Linked DNA regions of Homo sapiens. The protein of the gene in region 2 purifies or fractionates together with the protein of the main gene of each other region. This does not show direct contact. Each region holds a gene or a part of one and is shown on either strand. Other genes may lie near its edges.

Region 1 (3,739 bases), on a different chromosome or scaffold from region 2:
GTTTTCAAAGACAACCTCAAAATACTAAAAAACACAAATACTTTACCAAAATATTCCTAGTAAAGAAAACCTGGCAAGTGAAGAAATATAAAAAGTACTCAAGTACCAGGCTTAACGTGGAATGTTTCCAACCTTCATTATGACAGATACAGTTATCTACAGAAGAGTTTCCACCCATTCTCTTTTAAGGAATAAACATTATAGCCTGAAAAACATCTATTAAAAAAACCTAACAATGTATTACATTTTTTACGTGTGTCAAACCCTAAAGTACAATGTTATTCCTTAATGAAAACATATGAGGATGCTTAAATGTCATAAGGTTTGGGATATGTAATGTAGTATTTCTTTTGAAATTGTTTTTGATTTATTTCATCTTATTCAGGACCTTAAAATGTCAAAAATACAAACATTTGCTACAATAAACTGATTTCATAGGAAAGGCTAGGCCTACAAACTGGTTCTAAAGACTTGACTTCTGATATAATTCCAGTGTCATAAATAGAAGAAGACTAAAGCAATCACCGTTTTTCCTCATTTAATATTCTACTTGATAAGTTACTACAGTTAAGTACCTCAACTAAAACAATTTTCTACTACAAGACAATTCTTTTAGTTGGAAAGACTCCTCTTGAAAATTCCTTTCCTAACTTTCCAATGAAGAATTGCCTCATTAGAAAGAAAAAGGTTGTTTCTCTTTCTCATTATTGAAGTTTATTTCTATTAGTTAAATTCTACTAACCTCATCCCATTAACTAACTAGTGAGGCTTATAGCTTTCTTCAATCACCATTTTTTGGGGGTTTGATAAATCATTTGTATTCTAGGGTAAATTTGATGGGTTGATATTTTATAGTAATTTTAGCATATATTTTATTTAAAAAGCATAGTTTTCATCACCAAGATTTCTAAAGTTTATCACCAGAAATATGACATATTAGCATCACGAACCCCCTGATATGATGTACAGAGAATGACACAAGATTGTGTCTGTAGTATTCTTGCAATAAATGCGTAACTTCAGTCAAACAATGAGAAAATATCATATAAACCCAAACTGAGGGACAATCTGTAAAATAACTGAAACTCTTCAAACATGTGAAGAAAATGAAGGAAACAGGAAATAACAGTTAAATGCAAGGTGGGATCTTAGGTAGGTTCCTAGAACAGAAAGGGAACATTGGTGAAAACTGAGGGTTAGTTAGTAGTATTGTATCAATGCTACTGCCCTGGATTTGATCATTGTATTATGGTTACACAAGATGTTAACATTAAGGGAAGCTGTGTGAAGTGTATACGGGCACTCTGTACAGTTTTTGTGATTTTTCTATAAGTCTAAAATTAGTTTAAAATGAAAAGTTAAAAATATTCCTAAAGTTTACTAAGTGAGAAAATATCATCAAAACATGAAAGGATAGAATCAAGCAACAAGCTAAGCTATTAACTTAACAATCCATTTCTATCCTGAAAAGGAAAGCTCTTTTCTTATTCTTCCTTTGTGAAATGATTTTTCAGATTCATGTCTTCTGAAAAAAGCATGCATGGATTCACCTGCTCTAACTGAATTATAGATTTTTCTTTAAACCACCTACCAGTTTTTCCCCTATAGAGATGCGTTTTATTTAAATGGAAACTTCAATCTGACGATTGACATCTTAGTGAACTAATTTAAACACTTGTTACATGTCAATAGCAAACACCTTTAAAAATTAACTGGAAGAAACAACAATTATTTACTCCTAAAATCCATTTGTCAAAATCACACAATTATAAAGTAAAATGGATTACCACATATTTATAGCAGGAGAAATAATTTTAAAATGAGGGTGTTTTTCTATTATATTTATGTGGGTTTTATTTTATAGTCACTAGACAGTAAAATCCATCAAGCATTTTATAACTGCTTACATCACAAGTATTCAGTAATTATCTGGGTAACCTCGGACCCAACACTCAAGCACTTTGGTTCTCAGTTCTTTATATGTCAAATAAATAGATCAGTCAAGATCTGTATTATCCAAATATTAGCATGTGGCTATTTAAATGTAATACTTCAAAATTAAAGTAAAAAATTCAGCTTTGAATTTGAGACACATTTCATGCACTCAACAGCCACACATGACTGGTGGCTACTACCCTGGACAGCAAAGATAACAGAACATTTCATCATGACAAAAAGTTCTACTGAACAGTACTGTTCAAGAGGATCTTGACATTCTGCCTTTTCTTTCTTTCTTTCTTTCTTTGAGATGGAGTTTCGCTCTTGTTGCCCAGGCTGGAGTGCAATGGCACAATCTCAGCTCATGCAACCTCCGCCTTCCAGGTTCAAGCGATTCTCCTGCCTCAGCCTCCCAAGTAGCTGGGAGGTGCCCACCACCACGCCCAGCTATTTTTTTTTTTTTTTAATATTTTTAGTAGAGATAGGGTTTCACCATGTTGGCCAGGCTGGTCGCTAACTCCTGACCTCAGGTGATCCACCCGCCTCGGCCTTCCAAAGTGCTGGGATTACAGGCATGAGCCATCGTGCCCGGTCCTGATTGCCTCTTCGATTCTGTGCGTGAGGCTGAACTGTGTCCCTCCAAAACTCATATATTGAAGTTCTAACTCCCAGGATCTCACAGTATGACTGTATTTGGAGACAGAGTCTTTAAAGAGGTAATTAAGGTTTAATGTGGTCATTAGGGTGGGCCATAATCCAGTATAAATGGTGTCCTTACAAGAGGAGGGGATTAGGACACAGACACACGAACATAAAAAGAGACGACAGCCATCTACAAGACGAGGAGAGAGGCCTCGGAAGAAATGACCCTGCAGACGCCTTGATCTCAGACTTCTAGCCTCCAGAACTATGAGAAAATAGATTTCTATAGTTTAAGCCATGCAGTCTACAGCATTTTTTAGGACAACTCAAGCAAACTAATAAACATAATTTTTTAAACCCACATTATGTAACCTATCAATTTGCCCCATCTTCCTGAATTGAAGTACATGGATTATATTTCCTGTTCTAATCAAGCTGGCTTTTCTGTGATGAGCTCTTCTTCTCAATCAGATTCTCATTTTTTTCTATGAATTTTTGTCCAATTTTTTCTATATTCAGAATCTATCAGATTGCATTTTTTCCTTTCATTGATTCAAGTTTTCTCCAACAAGTATTTTCCAGTTATTACACCCATCCTTTCACTTACCAGCAAAACCTGGTGCTTGCCAATCTGTGCAAGCTTAGTCAATGCACTAAATGAAAAGTAAAGGTATTCACTATGAAATAAGTGCAAGGCTAACCTCAGATCAAATCAATTAATGAGTAGTAAATTTTATAACACTAATTTTAATAAAACTTTCAACACTAATAAAAACCTCAAATATAAATATTTTAGCTCTCACATCAGGGATGGAATTTCACACTAGTTTTGGGTAGTAGAATCATATGGAGTTTCTTGACTCCCATTTTAAACTTATCAGGCATGCATATACGGTAACAGGGATTTCATCTATAAAACACTGTAGACCTGGAACATGGAGAATCTACAACAAACCTGTTTAAGAAAAGGTTGGTATTCCTGAACTAGTTGCCTTGTTTTGGCGTAATTTACAAGTTAATACCGATTGGCAGAAGTACTTTTTATATGAGTAGTCTAGGTAGTTATAACACCACATCAATTATTTTAAAACGCTTGACTGTTGAAATATATGTTTAGAGTAGGTTACTAGATTCTTCAAATTCATCCTAGCATTATCCA
Region 2 (3,500 bases):
TGTGAGCCAAGATTGCACCATTGCACTCCAGCCTGGGCAACAAGAGCAAAACTCTGTCTCAATAAATAAATAAATAAATAAATAAATAAATAAATAAATAAAATAAAATGCAAAGGTGTTGGAGGGCAAAGATTTGTCTACAAAGGTGTTTATCACATGATAATATTTAAAAATTGTAACCATGTTCAGTAATAAGAAATTAGTTAATTAAATTATTACTCATTAAATAGAACTATATGGCTATTTATTAAATTTCATGGAACAGTGAATAATACACAAAATAGTATATGAAAGTATAATTGATACCCCAATTGAAAATCTTTCTCATTTGTGCACCAACTACATGTAGTAACAGTTAAAGATATATGAAATAAGGTGCAAAATGTTATTTGAAAATGTAATTAATATACCGAAAATCCTCATTTGTAACTCAACTATTTCTTTAGCCTCGTTTAATTTTCTGTTTCTGTTTAGATGGGGGGGAAATTAAGTGCCTTATAAATCAGGATGGCTTTCTCTCTATTCATTGGACATTACTGTTTATTGTGGTTTTTTAAATTTCCTTCCTTCCTTCCTTCCTTCCTTCCTTCCTTCCTTCCTTCCTTCCTTCATCACTCTTTTCCCTCCCTCTCTCTCTCTTTCTCTCTTTCTTTCTTGACAGGGTCTCACTCCCTCACCCAGGATGGAGCACAGTGGCATGATCATAGCTCACTGTAGCCTTAAACTCCTGGATTCAAGCAATTCTCCCTCCTCAACCTCCCAAGTAGCTGGGACTACAGCCACGCACCACCACACCTGGCTAATATTTAAATTTTCTGTAGGAACGAGGTCTCTCTATGTTGCCCAGGCTGGTCTCCAACTCAAAGAACCTCAAGTGATCCTCCCACCTCCATCTCCCAAAGCTCTGGGATTACAGGCATGAGGCATCGTGCCTAGCCTGTATATTGTGTTTTAATGTGACTTTGTCTTTTACTCTTTATTTTGAGATAGCTTTTATACTGAGGCAACATGGAATGAGCATTGGCCTTGGTACCAGATAGATCTAATTCCAAATTCTGCTTCATCTCGTAACAATTATGTAACTCTGAGAAGTTAACTTATTTGAGCTTTGGTTTCTTCATCTGTAAAACATGAAAAAATCTATTTCCCAGGGGAGTAAGGATTAATAACATCAAAGGCAAAGTCCTTAAAATAGGGCTTGCCACTATAATGGGTATTCAACTGATGTTTGTAAAAAACAATGCTTTGGTGAAGGTGATGTTAAAGTTGAAGAACTTTAAAAAAGTTTATATTTGTGGTGGAAATAGAAAATAAAATTCTTAGATAAGTTTTTTTTTAAGAAAAGAAGCCAATTGAGGTGTTAATGTACCTGTTCTTATGTTTATGGTTATGATAAATTATTACAACAAAACTTTCAGGTATTCAAAATAAAGATTTCTTTAATGTTTTAATGTAGTACTTATGACCTAGTACTTTGGCATTAGATAGAACTGGGTTCAAATCCTAGTTCTGACACTTCCTAATATCCTCGTATAAACTTGGGAAAGTTTAAACTCTATATGCCTCAGTTTACTCATCTGTAAAACAGATATAATAGTAGTAGCCATATCATAGGTAGAAGTGATGATTAAATGTGCTTGGGATTTAGTAAACATTCAATAAATGGAAGTTACTATTACTATAATAATAATAATTATTATTATTATTTAACAGCTATGGCCATGTATCATGGCCTCCATTTTATAGATAAGAAATGGAGGCAGAACTAGTGAAGTGGCTTGATCCGAGGAAAAATTTGAAGAAAAACCAAAGTCTACATTCATAGTTAATTCAGTGTATCTGTATTCTATTGAAATACAGTCTCATGAATTAACTGTGTTGACTTCAGATCTTTGTATTCTCTTTGCTTGGACTGCTTCCTGTGCCCACCTCTTTTCACTATCCTATCAGGCCTAATCCTACATGGTCTTTGGTTCCTAGCTGAGACATCACTGCCCTGGGATTTCTTCTCTTCCCTGAGTTGGGTACCTCTCCAATGTGCTCCCAAAGCTCACTGTCCTTGACACAGTCTCCAAACACAGTACTTATCACAATATATGAAGTGTATTTTCTTCTCTGTCTCCTTCACTATGTTTTGTACACCATCGTCTCTGCACCCACATAGCACATAGAAGGTGGTCAATAAATTTTTTTTTTTGAATTTATGTGTTCATTAGAATTTTCTGCTAACTCTACTATTAGCTTTCACTTTTTTTTTTTTTTTAAGACAGAGTTTCGCTCTTGTTGCCCAGGCTGGAGTGCAATGGTGCGATGTCGGCTCACTGCAACCTCCACCTCTCACGTTCAAGCGATTCTCCTGCCTCAGCCTCCCAAGTAGCTGGGATTACAGGCATGTGCCACCATGCCTGGCTAATTTTTGTATTTTTAGTAGAGACAGGGTTTCACCATGTTGATCAGTCTGGATGGTCTTGAACTCCTGACCTCGAGTGATCCACCTGCCTCGGCCTCCCAAAGTGTTGGGATTACAGGTATGAGCCACCATGTCCGGCCTATCTTTCACTTTTGATTGTAGGATAAAATAGGACAGATAAAGGAGGTCAAAGAAAACTTATAGACACAAAGAAAAACTATAAACTGGTAAAGGCAGTCATAACTTTAAGATGACTTTCAAGTGAAAATTTATTTATGATGGATAAAATAACTGAAATCATGCTTTGTTTTCTTTTTTCTTTCTTTTCTTTCTTTTTTTTTGAGATAGACTCTCGCTCTTATAGCCCAGACTGAAGTGCAATGGCACGATCTCAGCTCACTGCAGCCTCTGTCTCCCGTGTTCAAGCGATTCTCCTGCCTCAGCCTCCCAAGTGGCTGGGATTATAGGCACCTGCCACCATGCCCGGCTAATTTTTGTATTTTCAGTAGAGATGGGTTTTCACCATGTTGACCAGGCTGGAATGCTTTACTTTCATACCAGAAGTATCAGAGAACATCTGATTATAATCAGAAACCTGGGTTTGAATCCCAGCTCCAACACTAAATAACTTTGTTTTCTTGAGAAAGTCACTTAATGCATCTGAATCTCAGTTAACCTCATCTGTCAAATAGGACAACAATTCTATCTTTGAGGATTCTCAGATGAAAATGCATATATAAATTGTTAAACTGATAAAATATTAGCCAAAATAAAAAATATGAAAATTATTTTTTTAAGCATTAATTTAAAAACTTTCTATTTTAAGCATTAATTTTATAACTATTATAAAATTTGTACTTAAAAAAAATCATAAGTGCTCTTATAGGTACCCTATAATTCATTTATTCATCCAATAAATATTTATTGAGCATCTACTATGTGCCAGGCACTGTTCTAGGCACTGTGGATTCAGTGGTGAACAAAAGACAAAGTCTCTATCCTAATGGAACTGACATTCTAGTAGGGAAAATATTAATGTTGGGAAGAAAAATAAAATAGAAAAGGGGGATTGAGAATAATGGAGGAGGAA
Region 3 (3,739 bases), on a different chromosome or scaffold from region 2:
CAACCTCCGCCTCCCAGGTTCAAGCAATTCTCCTACCCCAGCCTCCCGAGTAGCTGGGACTACAGGCACATGCCACCACGTCCAGCTATAAAATGCAGTTTTTAATCCTCGAAGAGATCTAAACTGTAAATCCTCATTTTGTAGATGTGGAAACAAGAGGTCCAAAGAGTACGTCATGTTTATTTTGAGTCCTTCACATATCTTTTTCACCATACTGAACACAGAGAATTGTAATTATTTCACATTAGAGTATGAAATTTGCAGAAATGCCATTACAAATATATCTTAATTGACACAAACTTGATCAACAGGAAAGCTAATTTAAAAGCTCTGTGAAAATTATTGAATACAGTGAATCAAAAGAACATTCTGTAAATAATTAATATTCAGACAAAATCTCCTCTAACATATACCTCCAAATAAATGAATGAAACACAGATTTTACCCACCTCCCGTATGACTTGCTGCAACTCATCTTGCTCCACATTTTTATGCATTTCCTCAGCAGCTGGCATTGATGGGAGTTTTCCATGCCCTTCTTCCACTTCAGATTTAGGTCCTACAACTTCTGGGGCTCCTTCAGCTGCATCAACTTCCTCAGAACTTTCCAAATCTGGAGGTGTCTGCACAGAGCCTGTTCTAGAAGGAGCTGTTGGCGTTAGAGCCACCGATGCTCGGAACACTTTCTTCCTTGCCACTAATGGGGTTTTGGATTTGCCCACTGAGGCAGTAGAAGGTACTCCAGTTCTTCTGTTAGCATGAGAGGGACCAGAACATACAGAAGATGATTCTGATGTTGCTTGGGAAAAAACAGATTCTGAGCTTTCTCCAGGAGGAATTTCAAATCCCATTTCTCCAAGTCCCAGGCCCAATTCAGACTTCAGGTATGACTGCTCCTGCATCAGTTCAGTGACCTGGAGATCATAAAAAAATGTTATTCTTCTCTCTTGGAATTAAGATTGGTAGCTAAAAAGGTTAAAGTCCTGGTTGTCATTATTGCCTAAAATCATGTAATTTGTAAAGACATAAATCTATTCCATTAATTTAATAACTACTCAATTTTATTTGCAAAAATGGTAAGTAAAATTTAAATTCCTATTGAGATGAAGCAACAAAACAGGTAAACAGAATACATAGTAGGATGAAATTTTACTTGTTACCACCAAAGTGTCCAAATCACTTGTAAGGAAGAGTAACTAGTGAAAAATAGTTACTCATAGTGCTTTTGCCCCCAAATGAACCAATCTGTCTAACACAATAAAGACAGATTTCTGTTAAAAACGTGGTCATGTTACAGCTCTAACTACCTAAAGAACCAGGATCAAACTGTGAAAGCACATGTCTCCTGAAATGTAAATTAAAAATCAATTTTCTTTTTTTTTTTGAGATGGAGTCTCACTCTGTCACCCAGGCTGGAGTGCAATGGCTTGATCTCGGCTCACTGCAACCTCCGCCTCCCGGGTTCAAGCAAGTCTCCTGCCTCAGCCTCCCAAGTAGCTGGGATTACAGATGCCTGCCACCATGCCCAGCTAATTTTTGTATTTTTAGTAGAGATGCGGTTTCACCATGTTGGTCAGGCTGGTCTTCAACTCCTGACCTCAGGTGATCCACTTGCCTCAGCCTCCCAAAATGCTGGGATTACAGGCATGAGCCACCACACCTGGCTTATTATTTTTTAAAGACAGGGTCTTGCTCTGTCACCCAGGCTGGAGTGCAGTGGCACAATCATAGCTCACTGTAGCCTTGAGCTCCTGGCCTCAAGCAATCCTCCCGCCTCAGCCTCCTGAGTAACTGGGACTACAGGCACATATCACCATGCCTGGCTGATTTTTAAATTTTCTGTAGAGAAAGGGTCTCATTTTGTTGACTAGGCTGGTCTCAAACTCCTGGCTTGAAGCAATCCTTCCACCTCAACCATTTAAATAAAGTGCTGGGATTACAGGCATGAGCCACTGTACATGTTTTTATGGTGCATTACCTCCTTTAGTCAGAAAGATAAATCACTATTGCAATTCAGGTGGCTTTCTAGTGGCTTCAGACAGCAATGGACTTTCAAAGGTGAAAGTCACTTCCAATCAACAATAATTTATCAAATTATGTATTTAAAATAAACATATATTTCATCTAAACTAGGGAAACTATGTGTCTGAAATGTTGTATCATTCCCTTCCCCAGTGATTTAAGAGGAAAGAAGCTTACTGGTTCCATTACATTCAATGGAGAAGGGCATGACAAGTTATCAGCGCTTCTACTGCCACACATTCCCTGAAAAGGTAAGAACAATATATATATGTATATGTGTGTGTATATATACATACATGCATATATAATTATAATGTACATATATATTTTTTCAAATCACAAGACTTTTATAATAAAATTAATTGGCTAATTAGTGCCTGGAAGCATCCCTTTATGTCACAAAGGTTACTCTCAAGTGTCACAGATCCCATAAAATGCATTATTGTGAGTTAAAACTGATACAATATGCAAAAAGGATGTTCTAGTTCTCCCGTCACCAACATACACTTCTCAGAATGATAAATCAAAACCATGTTGAAAAGTACATTCATTAGCAATACAGAACATCCTTAGTCTATGCTATACATATATGTGTTTATACACCATTGTTTATTCTACTTCATTTATAGTATATACACACATAATTGTATGTGTGTATATTCATCCATTTCTTTTTAACAAAATCAAATACATTGTTAAGGTAACAAAGAATAATTCACTATTTCAGCATTTCAAAGCAACATATTCTACAACTTCAAAGATATTTGCAAAAATAATACAACTGTTGAAGTTCAAATGTTATGGAAAGAAACATTAGAAGTATGAAAAGTGGTACAAAAACATGTTTCTTTTTATTCTCTTGGATATATATCTATATATTTAGGAAAATACATATATGTATGTGTATGTATATATATGTATGAAAATATACAGGTATCATTTGATTCCTTTAAAAACAAATGGAAAAGAATCCAAAATAAAGAAAAAGTTTAAAAGGAACACTTTTTTATTTAAAGGCATGAAAGAAAAAAAAACAGCAAAATATGCATCTGTGTTCTCTGCAGTTACATGCAACAATTAAAATTTACATTAGTCATATGTTAATTCACTAGCATTTTTCCTTTAAAAACCCTCAACTTTCGTATAAGCCCTTATTCTTTCCTGTTATTAAAATTTATCATTAAAAATTTTCAACATATTTCTAAATATACTATTTATGACAATTATTACAAATTGTACATTCAACTGATTTGTGGGAAAGCTCCTTAAACAGTATGCATGCTTTTAATACCATTAAAATAAATGACTTGAAATGAAGGCACACGTCCTAAATTATTGGAACATTATAAATAAACCTTTGGTGAAAACTCCGACCACCCTCCAGGTAGCGTACCATGAGTGCGGAGGAGCGGAAGGGTGAAGGCATGCGCACAGCACGAAGCTGCTCCTCCAGGCCCAGCAGGCGCTCCTCCAGCTGCAGTTCCAGGTCCTGAAGTTCCATTCGGACTGAATTTCTCAAACCCTGGAGCTGATCAACTTCAAACCTATTGGTATGGTGAAGGGCACAAAATTGGAAAAATGCAGTTTGGAGATTCCTAATCACAAATCTTTCAACAACTACTATATGCTAACAGAAGGCATGGAAATCTCAGGTTCTAGAAATTAGTACAATATCAACTACAATAGGTGTATCCACAAGGACATTAGTCTTTCTTCC

Evidence for each region.
Region 1: the proteins of MYPN (region 2) and HOMER1 purify together in Homo sapiens (affinity purification with mass spectrometry; one large-scale study listed by BioGRID and IntAct). This does not show direct contact.
Region 3: the proteins of MYPN (region 2) and ITPRID2 purify together in Homo sapiens (affinity purification with mass spectrometry; one large-scale study listed by BioGRID and IntAct). This does not show direct contact.

The regions. Positions count from the first base shown.
Region 1 is NC_000005.10:79,402,477-79,406,215, forward strand, and holds part of HOMER1 (homer protein homolog 1), read right to left. Parts: intron 1-3,739. UniProt on the Homo sapiens protein: Postsynaptic density scaffolding protein. Binds and cross-links cytoplasmic regions of GRM1, GRM5, ITPR1, DNM3, RYR1, RYR2, SHANK1 and SHANK3.
Region 2 is NC_000010.11:68,115,988-68,119,487, reverse strand, and holds part of MYPN (myopalladin), read right to left. Parts: intron 1-3,500. UniProt on the Homo sapiens protein: Component of the sarcomere that tethers together nebulin (skeletal muscle) and nebulette (cardiac muscle) to alpha-actinin, at the Z lines.
Region 3 is NC_000002.12:181,919,123-181,922,861, reverse strand, and holds part of ITPRID2 (protein ITPRID2), read right to left. Parts: intron 3,567-3,739; coding exon 3,416-3,566; intron 2,266-3,415; coding exon 2,200-2,265; intron 915-2,199; coding exon 450-914; intron 1-449.